Linked DNA regions of Homo sapiens. The protein of the gene in region 2 interacts with the protein of the main gene of each other region in a biochemical or structural test. Each region holds a gene or a part of one and is shown on either strand. Other genes may lie near its edges.

The links.
Region 1: of the proteins of DDX3X (region 2) and TRIM25, one has a biochemical effect on the other in vitro, tested with the Homo sapiens proteins (one study listed by BioGRID).
Region 3: the proteins of DDX3X (region 2) and USP9X form a complex in vitro, tested with the Homo sapiens proteins (one study listed by BioGRID).

Annotation. Positions count from the first base shown.
Region 1 is NC_000017.11:56,900,239-56,904,067, forward strand, and holds part of TRIM25 (E3 ubiquitin/ISG15 ligase TRIM25), read right to left. Parts: intron 1,341-3,829; coding exon 1,181-1,340; intron 1-1,180.
Region 2 is NC_000023.11:41,344,162-41,347,761, forward strand, and holds part of DDX3X (ATP-dependent RNA helicase DDX3X), read left to right. Parts: intron 1-77; coding exon 78-238; intron 239-1,018; coding exon 1,019-1,163; intron 1,164-1,242; coding exon 1,243-1,387; intron 1,388-2,067; coding exon 2,068-2,249; intron 2,250-2,343; coding exon 2,344-2,461; intron 2,462-2,697; coding exon 2,698-2,851; intron 2,852-3,150; coding exon 3,151-3,290; intron 3,291-3,478; coding exon 3,479-3,558; 3' UTR 3,559-3,600. UniProt on the Homo sapiens protein: Multifunctional ATP-dependent RNA helicase. The ATPase activity can be stimulated by various ribo-and deoxynucleic acids indicative for a relaxed substrate specificity.
Region 3 is NC_000023.11:41,088,445-41,092,273, reverse strand, and holds part of USP9X (ubiquitin carboxyl-terminal hydrolase 9X), read right to left. Parts: intron 1-3,829.

The DNA.
Region 1 (3,829 bases), on a different chromosome or scaffold from region 2:
TAGCCGGGCATGATGGTGTGTATCTATAGTCCTAGCTAGTCGGGAGGCTGAGGCAGAGGGATCACTTAATCCCAGGAGTTTGAGGTTACAGTGAACTATAATCACGCCATTGCATTCCGGCCTGGGCGACAGAGCAAGATCCTGAATAAATAAATAAATAAGCCGCAGCCCCTGACCTCACAGAGATCACAACCTAATGAGGGAGATATACGGGGATCCCAAGGAAGAATGCGATACTACCCATGCAAGAGTCCCAAGAGGATGACAAGGACCCTGGGCCCAGTCTGAGGAGTGGGAGCAGTGGCAGGGGAGGCTGGCTATAAATGTAATGTTTTGCTGATCTTTGAAGGGTGAGAGGAGTTAATTAGTGAAGACGGTGGAGTTCAAGCCTTCTGGAGAGTGGGGAAGAGCAAACACAAAGGCCCTGTAGCAGGAAGTTTTGCATATTTGAGGAACTGAATGCAGAGAGATGCACCAGAGGAGAGTGGGGGGCGCCTTGGGGCTGGAGAGAGACCAACAGGGCTTGACCTGGCATCTAGACCAGGGTCAAGGGTTTGGTCTGCATCAGGGAGTAATAGGAAGCCTAGTGAGAGGGCAAAGCAGAATAGGTCCCAGGACATGAGCTCTGCATCATGAAAATCCCTCTCTGGCTGCAGCGGCAGATGCAGAGGGTTTAGGAAGCTGCTACAGTCATGGGGCGACAGGTGATGGCAATGGAGAACAGGCAAGCAGTGCTAGGATCAGCAGACTGAGTCAGGAGATTGAAAGAAGTGAAATTTGGCAATGGATTGGATATGGGGTGATGAAAAGGGGGTGTCAAAGAGGAATTCTAGATTTCTCCCCCAAACGGGCCATTCCCCCACCAAACACAATAACAAGCCCTAGCTTATTCAAAACCCATCCAAGTTGGCCTCAAGATCACAGGCCAAAAGAGCCTATCTGTCCAGAAAGTCCAAGCATTAACATCAAGTCCCCAAAAATGCTTTAGGAAAGATCCTAAAATGTCAGGATGAAGCAGACTCCCCACCAGCCTCCAGACAGAGGGCGGATGTTTCAGGAGCCCTGAAACTCAGGCCCCAGTGCTCGGGATCACGCCCCAATCTCCCATCCCAAAACATTTAGGGGACCCATCGGGTTGCAGGGTTCCACAGGGGGCAGCATAGGGGGCTGCTAAGGTCACCTGAACTGGGGGTGGGCTCCTGGAGCCGCCCGATGCACTGCTTCAGCTCGTTTTTGAGGTCTATGGTGCTCTGGTGGATGCCTTTTATCAGCTTGTGGTTCAGTTCCACCTCGGGGATGTAGACTGGCTTTGTTGAGATTCCTCGCAGTTTTGATGCTTTCTGGAACATGCCAGGGGGTTAGTGCAGGCAGCTCTGGTGAAACGGGGACCTGGGCTCAGTCCTCACCAACCCCAGGAGGCTCTCCCCTATGCCCAAGAGTGCTAAGTCCAATTGGCCTTCTCAAATTACAGGCCAGAGGTCACCAGGAGTTTAAATGACACTTGAAGACACAGTAATCTGGAGCTGGAGGGGACCCCAGAGGTCACTCATCTTACAGATGGGGAAACTGAGGTCTAGACATGGCAGGAACTCCACCAGCTAGGGGCACAGACACAGCTGGGACTGAGATCTTCCGATCCCCCAGGACAATGTTCTTTCCACTTTTCCAGCTAAAGGTGGAAAAGCACAGGAAACTCAGGACCACCCCAATCCTAGGGGAACAGCTCTAATCACACATTCTGGTAACAGACAGGGACATCTCAAGGGATGTGGATTGCAGCCAGGGAATATCTTATGGGAAGGGAGGGTCTTCCTGGAAGTCCCAAACTTTGAGAAAAATAGGGTTGTACAGTATCAAGAAGCCTAGATGTGCACTCAGATCCTTCGAGAGCTCGGGGCAGCTGCTCCAACAGACAGGAATGAACACTTGGGATGAAACTTAACGCCATCCAGACTAGGCACGCATCAGGCCTCAGTGCACAGAGACAAGGTTCCCATTCACTCCTGCACTGTCTCCCCACCCCCTGATCTGAACAAGGAATCTGGGTCTTTCAGGTATAGCTGCAGGTCACTCAATCAATGGGGCACACCACTATATGCCAAGCACTCTGCTATGTGCTGGTCAGATTGGCAGGAGGATGAATGGGGGTAATAAGAGATGGGCTTACAGTCAAAACAGCCATGAAAAAATGCACATCTGAAACAACATCACCCAATGTTACTGTAGAAACAGTGTGGCATGCTTGGGAACACCGATACGGCATGGCAATGGGATCCAAGGCCCTGGAAGGATACGACTCACTAGGCAAGAATGCCCAGCATGGCATCCCACCCACACCCACTGTGTCTGGGGAACAGTGAGTGCATAGGGCATGAGCCAGGGATGGATGATATGAGATGAGACTGCTGGCACAGGCGGGGCCCAGTCACCTAGGACCCTGCAGGCCATGTTAAGGGACATGAGGCCAGAAACAGCAGGGGGCCCATGCTTTAGACAGATACTTTGATACAGTCTGGATGTTTGTCCCCTCCAAATCTCATGTTGGAATGTGATTCCCAGTGTTGGAGGTGGGGCAGGGTGGGAGGTGTTCGTGTCGTGGGGGTGGATTCCCCATGCACCGCTTGGTGCCCTCCCCATGGTAACAGGTGAGTTCTTGCACAAACTGGTTGTTTAACGGAGGCTGGCACTTCCTCCTCTGTCTCTTGTTCCCTCTCTAACCCTGTGACATGCCTGCTCCCAGCTTCACCTTCTGCCATGAGTAAAAGCTTCCTTCCTCACCAAAGGCCTAACTAAAAGCCAAACAGATGCTGGTGCCATGCTTGTACAACCTGTAGAACTGTGAGCCAAATAAACCTCTTTTCTTTATAAATTACTCAGTCTGGTTGGGCGCAGTGGCTCACACCTGTAATCTCAGCACTTTGGGAGGCCGAGGTGGGTGGATCACCTGAGGTCAGGAGTTCGAGACCAGCCTGGCCAACATGGTGAAATCTCGTCTCTACTAAAAATACAAAATTAGCTGGGCATGGTGGCGTGCGCCTGTAATCCCAGCTACTCAGGAGGCTGAGGCAGGAGGATCACTTGAGCCTGGGGGCAGAGGTTTCAGTGAGCAAGATCACACCACTACACTCCAGCCTGAGCAACAAGAGTGAAACTCCATCTCAAAATAAATACATAAAATAAATAAATAACTCAGTCTTAGGTACTCCTTTATAGCAATGCAAAAGGGACTACTAACACACACTTCCAGGAGCTGCTGGAGGAAGGATGGGAGGAAGAGGTGGAGTGTGAGTGGCAGGCAACGTTCTAAGATGGCCCTCAAGCCCCCGACCCCGACTGATGTACATACCCTATAGTATGCCCTCCCCTTCAGTATCGGCAGGACGGTGAATGAAATAGGATATCACTCCTGTGATTAGGTTATGTCATGTGGCAAAGGGGGTGGAATATTGCTGGTGTAATTAGCATCTCAAATCAATTGATTTTGAGTTCATCAAAGGGCAATTATCTGGGGTGGGCCTGACTTAATCAGGTAAAAGACCTTAAAAGAGGGATTGCATCTTTCTAGAGGAGAAATTCTCATGCTGGCCTTGAAGAAGTCAGCTATCAATCTGAGAGACAGCCAGCAGGAAATTGCGGGGGGCCTCAGTCCTACAACCATAAGGAACTAAATTCTGCCAACAACCACATGAGCCTGGAAGACAACCCTGAGCTCCAAAGGAAACAGCCTGGCCATCCCTCGCAGACTGTAGCCTGGTGAGACCCTATGCAGGCCACCCATAAAGCCATGTCCAGATTCCTGAGCCAGAGAAACTCTGAGAGAATAAATATG
Region 2 (3,600 bases):
CATTGATTCTAATTAAATGTTTTATGAACATGTAAAAATTTTGACCTTGAAGTTCATAACATTTTTTTTGCTTATAGTTTTCATACCGATCTAGAGTTCGTCCTTGCGTGGTTTATGGTGGTGCCGATATTGGTCAGCAGATTCGAGACTTGGAACGTGGATGCCATTTGTTAGTAGCCACTCCAGGACGTCTAGTGGATATGATGGAAAGAGGAAAGATTGGATTAGACTTTTGCAAGTATGTTTTATTTTGTTTTTGTTTTTTTGTTTTGTTTTGTTTTGTTCTTTTGTTTTTGGCAGAGTTGCGCTCTTGTTGCCCAGGCTGGAGTGCCATGGCGCGATCTCGGCTCACCACAACCTCTGCCTCCCGGGTTCAAGCGATTCTCCTGCCTCAGCCTCCCAGGTAGCTGGGATTACAGGCATGTGCCACCACGCTGGGCTAATTTTTGTATTTTTAGTAGAGGCGGGGTTTCTCCATGTTGGTCAGGCTGGTCTCGAACTCCTGACCTCAGGTGATCCGCCTGCCTTGGCCTCCCAAAGTGCTGGGATTACAGGTGTGAGCCATCGCACCCGGCCAAGTATGTTAATTTTTAAATGTATGGGATGCAGTATTAAAGTTACTGCCCATTAGTTTTGTGGTGATGTTAACATTGTCTAAATGTTAAGGCTGAGAAGTGATGTATTTCAGACATCTAACTTTCACAAAAAGCTTGTTCATGGTAATTTTAATGTTGAAAAATCAGTAACATCTTGGTTGAGACTTACAACAATGATCAGCTCGTGGGACAGTCAACTAGGATGGGCTAATTTGACTGTGTAATCTTGAATGACTTATGTAGTGGCAAGAATCCTGTGCTGTGTCTGTAAAATTATGCAGTGTGAGGCACCATCTTAATGAATATATAATTGTAATAACCTATACAATTGTATTTGTAATTATACTAACAGCCATACTAAAACCATGTTGATTTCTCCTCAAATTCTAAACTCAGGCTTGTTTTTTTTCATGACATGACAGATACTTGGTGTTAGATGAAGCTGATCGGATGTTGGATATGGGGTTTGAGCCTCAGATTCGTAGAATAGTCGAACAAGATACTATGCCTCCAAAGGGTGTCCGCCACACTATGATGTTTAGTGCTACTTTTCCTAAGGAAATACAGGTACTGTTTGATGTTGCAAATTTTATTTATTTAGAAATTTGTTTATCTCAGGTAATAATAAAAATTTTTTTTCTTTCAGATGCTGGCTCGTGATTTCTTAGATGAATATATCTTCTTGGCTGTAGGAAGAGTTGGCTCTACCTCTGAAAACATCACACAGAAAGTAGTTTGGGTGGAAGAATCAGACAAACGGTCATTTCTGCTTGACCTCCTAAATGCAACAGGTAACATTATGAATTTTTTATTTTATTAGACATGGGGGTTTCTCTTTGTTGCCCAGGCTGGAGTGCAGGGGTTATTCACAGGTGTGATCTCATTACTGATCAGCATGGGAGTATTTGACCTGCTCTGTTTCTGACCTGGGCCTGTTCACCCCTCCTTAGGCAACCTGGTGCTCCCTTGCTTCCGGGAGGTTACCATGTTGATGCCAAACTTAGTGTGGACACCTGATAGGCATAGTACACTACAGCCCAGAACTCCTAGACTTAGACAATCCTCCTGCCTCAGTCTCCAGAGTAGCTGGGACTACAGGCACTCACCACTGCACCCAGCTAAAATTATGAATAATTTAATTGCTCTGGTAATAACCCATTTGGGCTGGGTGCAGTGGTACAGTGCATGTAGTCCCAGCTACTTGGCAGGCTGAGGCTGTAGTATGCCATGATTGCACCTGCGAATGGCCAGTGCACTCTCAGCCTGGGCAATTTAGTGAGACCCCCATCTCTTAAATGTATTTGGATTACCTTTATTACTTTTCCTCCTCAATTCAAAACATGCTGTGTTGAAAGCCCGTTTTTAAGAAGATATATATGTATTTTAATTGACACATTAAAATTGTGCATACATAAGTGCAAAGAGAACTAAGCCATGTTAGTGACAAAAACCTATAATTTTTCAACGACAGGCAAGGATTCACTGACCTTAGTGTTTGTGGAGACCAAAAAGGGTGCAGATTCTCTGGAGGATTTCTTATACCATGAAGGATACGCATGTACCAGCATCCATGGAGACCGTTCTCAGAGGGATAGAGAAGAGGCCCTTCACCAGTTCCGCTCAGGAAAAAGCCCAATTTTAGTGGCTACAGCAGTATGTATAAACATCTTTCTTTTATTCAAATTGAGCATGTTCAAGTATTTGTTTTCTTTTAAGTGGGCCATATCTCATAAAAGTTATTTTCCAGGTAGCAGCAAGAGGACTGGACATTTCAAATGTGAAACATGTTATCAATTTTGACTTGCCAAGTGATATTGAAGAATATGTACATCGTATTGGTCGTACGGGACGTGTAGGAAACCTTGGTAAGTATTTGATTACTTGATGGTTTCATTGTTTTTTGCTGTGATGTGTGCAGGAAAGAACTTGCTAGGATCTAAAATACATTTTTAACAATGAAAGTGACAAAGATTTTGCTCAAAGCACTTGTTTAAATATTACGTGGTAATATTTTAAATATTTCTACGTAGGAAAGTAAGAATAGTAGCAAGTTACTTTATGGAAGACCTTTGTTTATATACTTTTTTGGGAACTCTTTTAGGCCTGGCAACCTCATTCTTTAACGAGAGGAACATAAATATTACTAAGGATTTGTTGGATCTTCTTGTTGAAGCTAAACAAGAAGTGCCGTCTTGGTTAGAAAACATGGCTTATGAACACCACTACAAGGGTAGCAGTCGTGGACGTTCTAAGAGGTGAGGTATAAATAGTATATAATGAGGGGAATGGGTGTTCACTTACAGTTCATAGTGTTTCCTCTGCATGCATAACGTCCAAGGTTAACTGTACAGTATTTAAAAAGCTTAATCATCTTAGGCTTCCTAGATTCTTTGGTAAGGGGTTGTATTAGAATGGGTGACACTCTGTTGGGGAAAATATGGCTGGATGGGGAATTGTTTGAATGGAAAAATTAGAAATTGGTCATTAGGAAAGAGTTAGGTTACTTTAGTGGAATTTCATCTTCATGTGAACCAACATAATTTTTTTCTTATAGTAGCAGATTTAGTGGAGGGTTTGGTGCCAGAGACTACCGACAAAGTAGCGGTGCCAGCAGTTCCAGCTTCAGCAGCAGCCGCGCAAGCAGCAGCCGCAGTGGCGGAGGTGGCCACGGTAGCAGCAGAGGATTTGGTGGAGGTAGTGTTAATCTGTAACTTCATAGCTTTGGGAAGGGTTTTTTTCCTTTTAGTCATCTTTTTCAAAGCCTAATTAAACAATTTAAGTTCAGCACTATAGAAACTTGATGGCAAATTACGTAAGGGAAGGATTGTATTTAATGATGGATAACTTCATTAATTTCTCTCTCTTTTTAAATCTCTCATTAGGTGGCTATGGAGGCTTTTACAACAGTGATGGATATGGAGGAAATTATAACTCCCAGGGGGTTGACTGGTGGGGTAACTGAGCCTGCTTTGCAGTAGGTCACCCTGCCAAACAAGCTAATATG
Region 3 (3,829 bases), 260 kb from region 2:
AGGAATAAAATGGACATCAAGGATACTAACAGGAGGCTTCGCCACTCCCTTTTTCCTTTCCACCCAATTCACAGGCTCTGTAGAAGATGGGATCTAATATGCACGATCACCAGCTCAAACTCATCCCAAGGAAAACAATTCCTTTGATTATGGTTGACTAACATGGTGTTCAAAGCTCACATGATTAATAAGAATAAACTGTAGGGTGCCATAAAATGAAGATGAATCAATTCTGTACAAGAGGTTGGAGGTACTGCAAGTTAAATACTGCCCCAGATTTTCCCATTCAGGTAATCAAATGGTTATTATAAACAGTATTATTCTAGGTGCTCTGTAATATACAAAGGTAAAGGACAGAATCCCTGACCTTATTATCCATTACCAGGGAGACAGTTTAATGTTAATTTTATGAGTGACTACAGAGAATTTAATAATTAATGTGATTTGACACATATAGATATAGCTTCATAAAGAAGGTAGTCTATGGCATGCTATCTTGGTCAAGTTACTTCACCTTTCACCTCTTTGAGCCATTTTTTTCATCTGAAAAATGAAGGGTCTGACTAGAAAGAATTGAGATCTCTTCCAGGATTTCTCATTGTAATGAGATTAGTAAGAAAAGTGACTCCCAGAAGTAAAAAGATTTAGCAAAAAATAAGTAAAATAGCAAGAATGTGATAAACTATATTCATCCAACAGTTACTAAATGTCTATATGCCAGGCACTTTCTAGGTGCTAAGGATATTATCACTGACTTAGAATGAAAGCCACTAACCTTAAAGATAGAATTGTGAGGACAAAATTAATCAAAACACCTAAACAAAGTAAATTAAATAGAAAAACACACTGTATAGAGATAATAGAGCATCAATACAGCAAAGGAATGGCAGGAGTAAGGGGTGACACCAGAGTATGTAATTTCTGGTCAAAAATTAACAGCATCAGAAGTACAGCTATTCCTAAAGCCAGTATGCCAAGAATTCCAAAAGAACCTATTTCTACTATACTTGACATTTGGGCTCACTGGAGAAAACTGGAGTTCAGAATGAAATTCTATTTAGTGACAAAAAAAATTCAATTGGCATATACCATAACAAAGTTTTTTTAAATAACAACTTAATCCAATCTCTCCTACGAGGTACATAAAAGAATGCCAGAAAACTAGCACTAAAGACTTTAGAGATCAGCTAGTCCAGCCCACCTCACTTCATATGTTAGCTTCTAGACAACAGTAATCTCTAGAACAGTGCCTAGCACACAGCAGATGCCCCAGAAGTATTTGTTGAACGGATTAAAAAGGAAACAAATGTCTTAACAGATATTAATGTTTATAGTAGAGCTGGAACCGTAACACCGAGAAGGTGCTAAGTGACAATAAATTTGATATATATGTGCACATATACTGTATATAATACATGTGAGTGTGGAATCCCTGTCTCTTCTAGTGTTTGAGCTTTTCACTACATGTTTGTGTTTCAGTCTGGAATTTTTGACTGTGTGACTAACAAAACGAAACTCAAACAAGAGTACTGCTGCCTAATGGTGGAACACATGACATGCAAAGGGTCTCAATTCTCCCCTTTCCCTAAAAGGGACTGCAAAAAAAAACCTCTGGTTACACATCAGACTCACCTATAGAGCAAATATATATTTTGAAAAAGCTCCACAGATGATTGATACACAGAGGTGGTAGAAAATCCTTGTTAGGCAGTGATTGAGAATAAAATTGAAAATCCATTTGCTGCCAAATATAAGATATGTGTGTATACACACGTTGAAGACACCAAGATTTAGCATGAGTATCTTTGAAGAATAAATTTTAGGTAAGCGATCTCATCCTAACAATATACTTTTTCACAAGTTATTCTTTAAAAGTATATTACAATGGTCATCACTTTATAATCCACAATAAATTATAAATTCAATGCCCAATATAGGTAAGTGTTAGAAGTTTTAAGTCTTTTTCCTTATTACATCAACTTTTTTCATGATCCTTATAGTCTCATTTTCTATAATTTAACAAAAAGATCTTTGGGGAATCTTGTGTCACACTAAGAATGCTCATAGGGCCGGGCCCAGTCGCTCATGCCGGGAATCCTAACACTTCGGGAGGCCCAGGTAGGCAGACAGCTTGAGCCCAGCAGTTCAAGACCAGCTTAGGCAACAAGGCAAAACCCATCTCTATAAAAGAGAAAAAAAATACAAATAGCCAGGCATGGGAGCACCTGTAGTCCCGGCTACTCAGGAGACTAAGGGGAGAGGATCACCTGAGCCCAGGAGAGGTGGAGGCTGCAGTGAACCGTGACCACTCCAGCCTCAGTGACAGAGTGAGAATCTGTCTCAAAAAAAAAAAAAAAAAAAAAAAAAAAACCCTCATAGATCCTAAACTCCTATAGGCTTCCCTGCTGCCATGCCCCCACCATGCAGAATTTGGTCCAATGGACCAAGGGGATTAAGAGACAGAAACTCCAAATAAATGTCTGTTATTGTTATTTCATTCGTTCCATAAAACAATTATACATCAATCCCAAAACAACACAAAATTCAAAACGCTTAATCAAAATCAAACTGATTTTGACTAAGACAAATAAAACTCTAAATTCTCAAACTGAGATAACAGAATTTCATGTGACACTAAACGGTAATTTGTGGGATCATTTAAATAAATTACTAGGAGACAAATGCATAGTTTCTACACCTTTTAGGAATGTTGTGTAATATTTTGTCATAAACGCACCAACTAAACTATCACCCTGAGCACGCTGGAAGATATATGGAAGGGGAGAAACCTATTTGCCACATAGCTTTTAACATCTCCCTTGGGCAACCAAGATATTTATCAAATTGGAGACTATCTTGATAGTCTTAAAAACTAAACTATATCTTAACTTACTCTGGTACGAGAAACAAACCAAAAGCTCTAAATGCTTTTTTAAAAATAGCAATCAGTGTCATTTCACTAACATAGCACAGTAGTCGAAGCACCACTGGTTGAACCTGACAGACCTCAGACCCATCGTAAGGCAATAAATGGAAAATGCTTAACAGTGCTGACAGACAATTAATGCTCAAATGATAATCATGCTAATAACTGAAAACAATTGAGAAAAAAATCCATTTTCTTATTTATCCACTTGAAAGTTCTAACAACATGATAAAAACAATAGCCCAGTGGTTTTCAACTCCAAATGCATGTAAGAATCATCCACAATGCTTTTAAAATATACCTTTGCCCAGGCTCCCTATCAGACCAATTAATCAGTCTCTGGGGGTGGAACCCAGGGATCAGTTTTTTTGTTGTGGTTGTTTTTTAACCCCGCCAAGTGATTCTCATGTCCAGTCAGGGTTGAGGTCCAATGCACTAACTCTTTCCCAAATATTAACGTTAAACTCTATGTTAAAATAATACAAGAACTTAGCAATACACAGGATGGCTTTCAAAAACACAGCTCCTAAAAGAACCAAATGACAACTAAAATCCGGTTTTTTCCCTTTTTGAAAAAAAAAAGAAAAACAATTCAAGACTCAGAAAACATACCTACAAGAGGGGAAACATAATGTAGGCTACCATAAAAAGTAATACGTTCTTTCAGAATAAAAATCAACTAACTCAATCTCAGGATAAGACCCCCCTCACCTTCACTGCCCAAAAGACTTAGAAGAACACTAATCCATTAACACACACTGCTAGATATTTCAAATAACTAATTCTTAACATCTGTTTTAAACAAAGATTGGTTTTAATACTAAAATTTTGAAACTAAAACGTTAGAAATTGATCTTATTAAATAAAAATAAGCTCAAAGACACTTGTTGTGTGACCAACTAA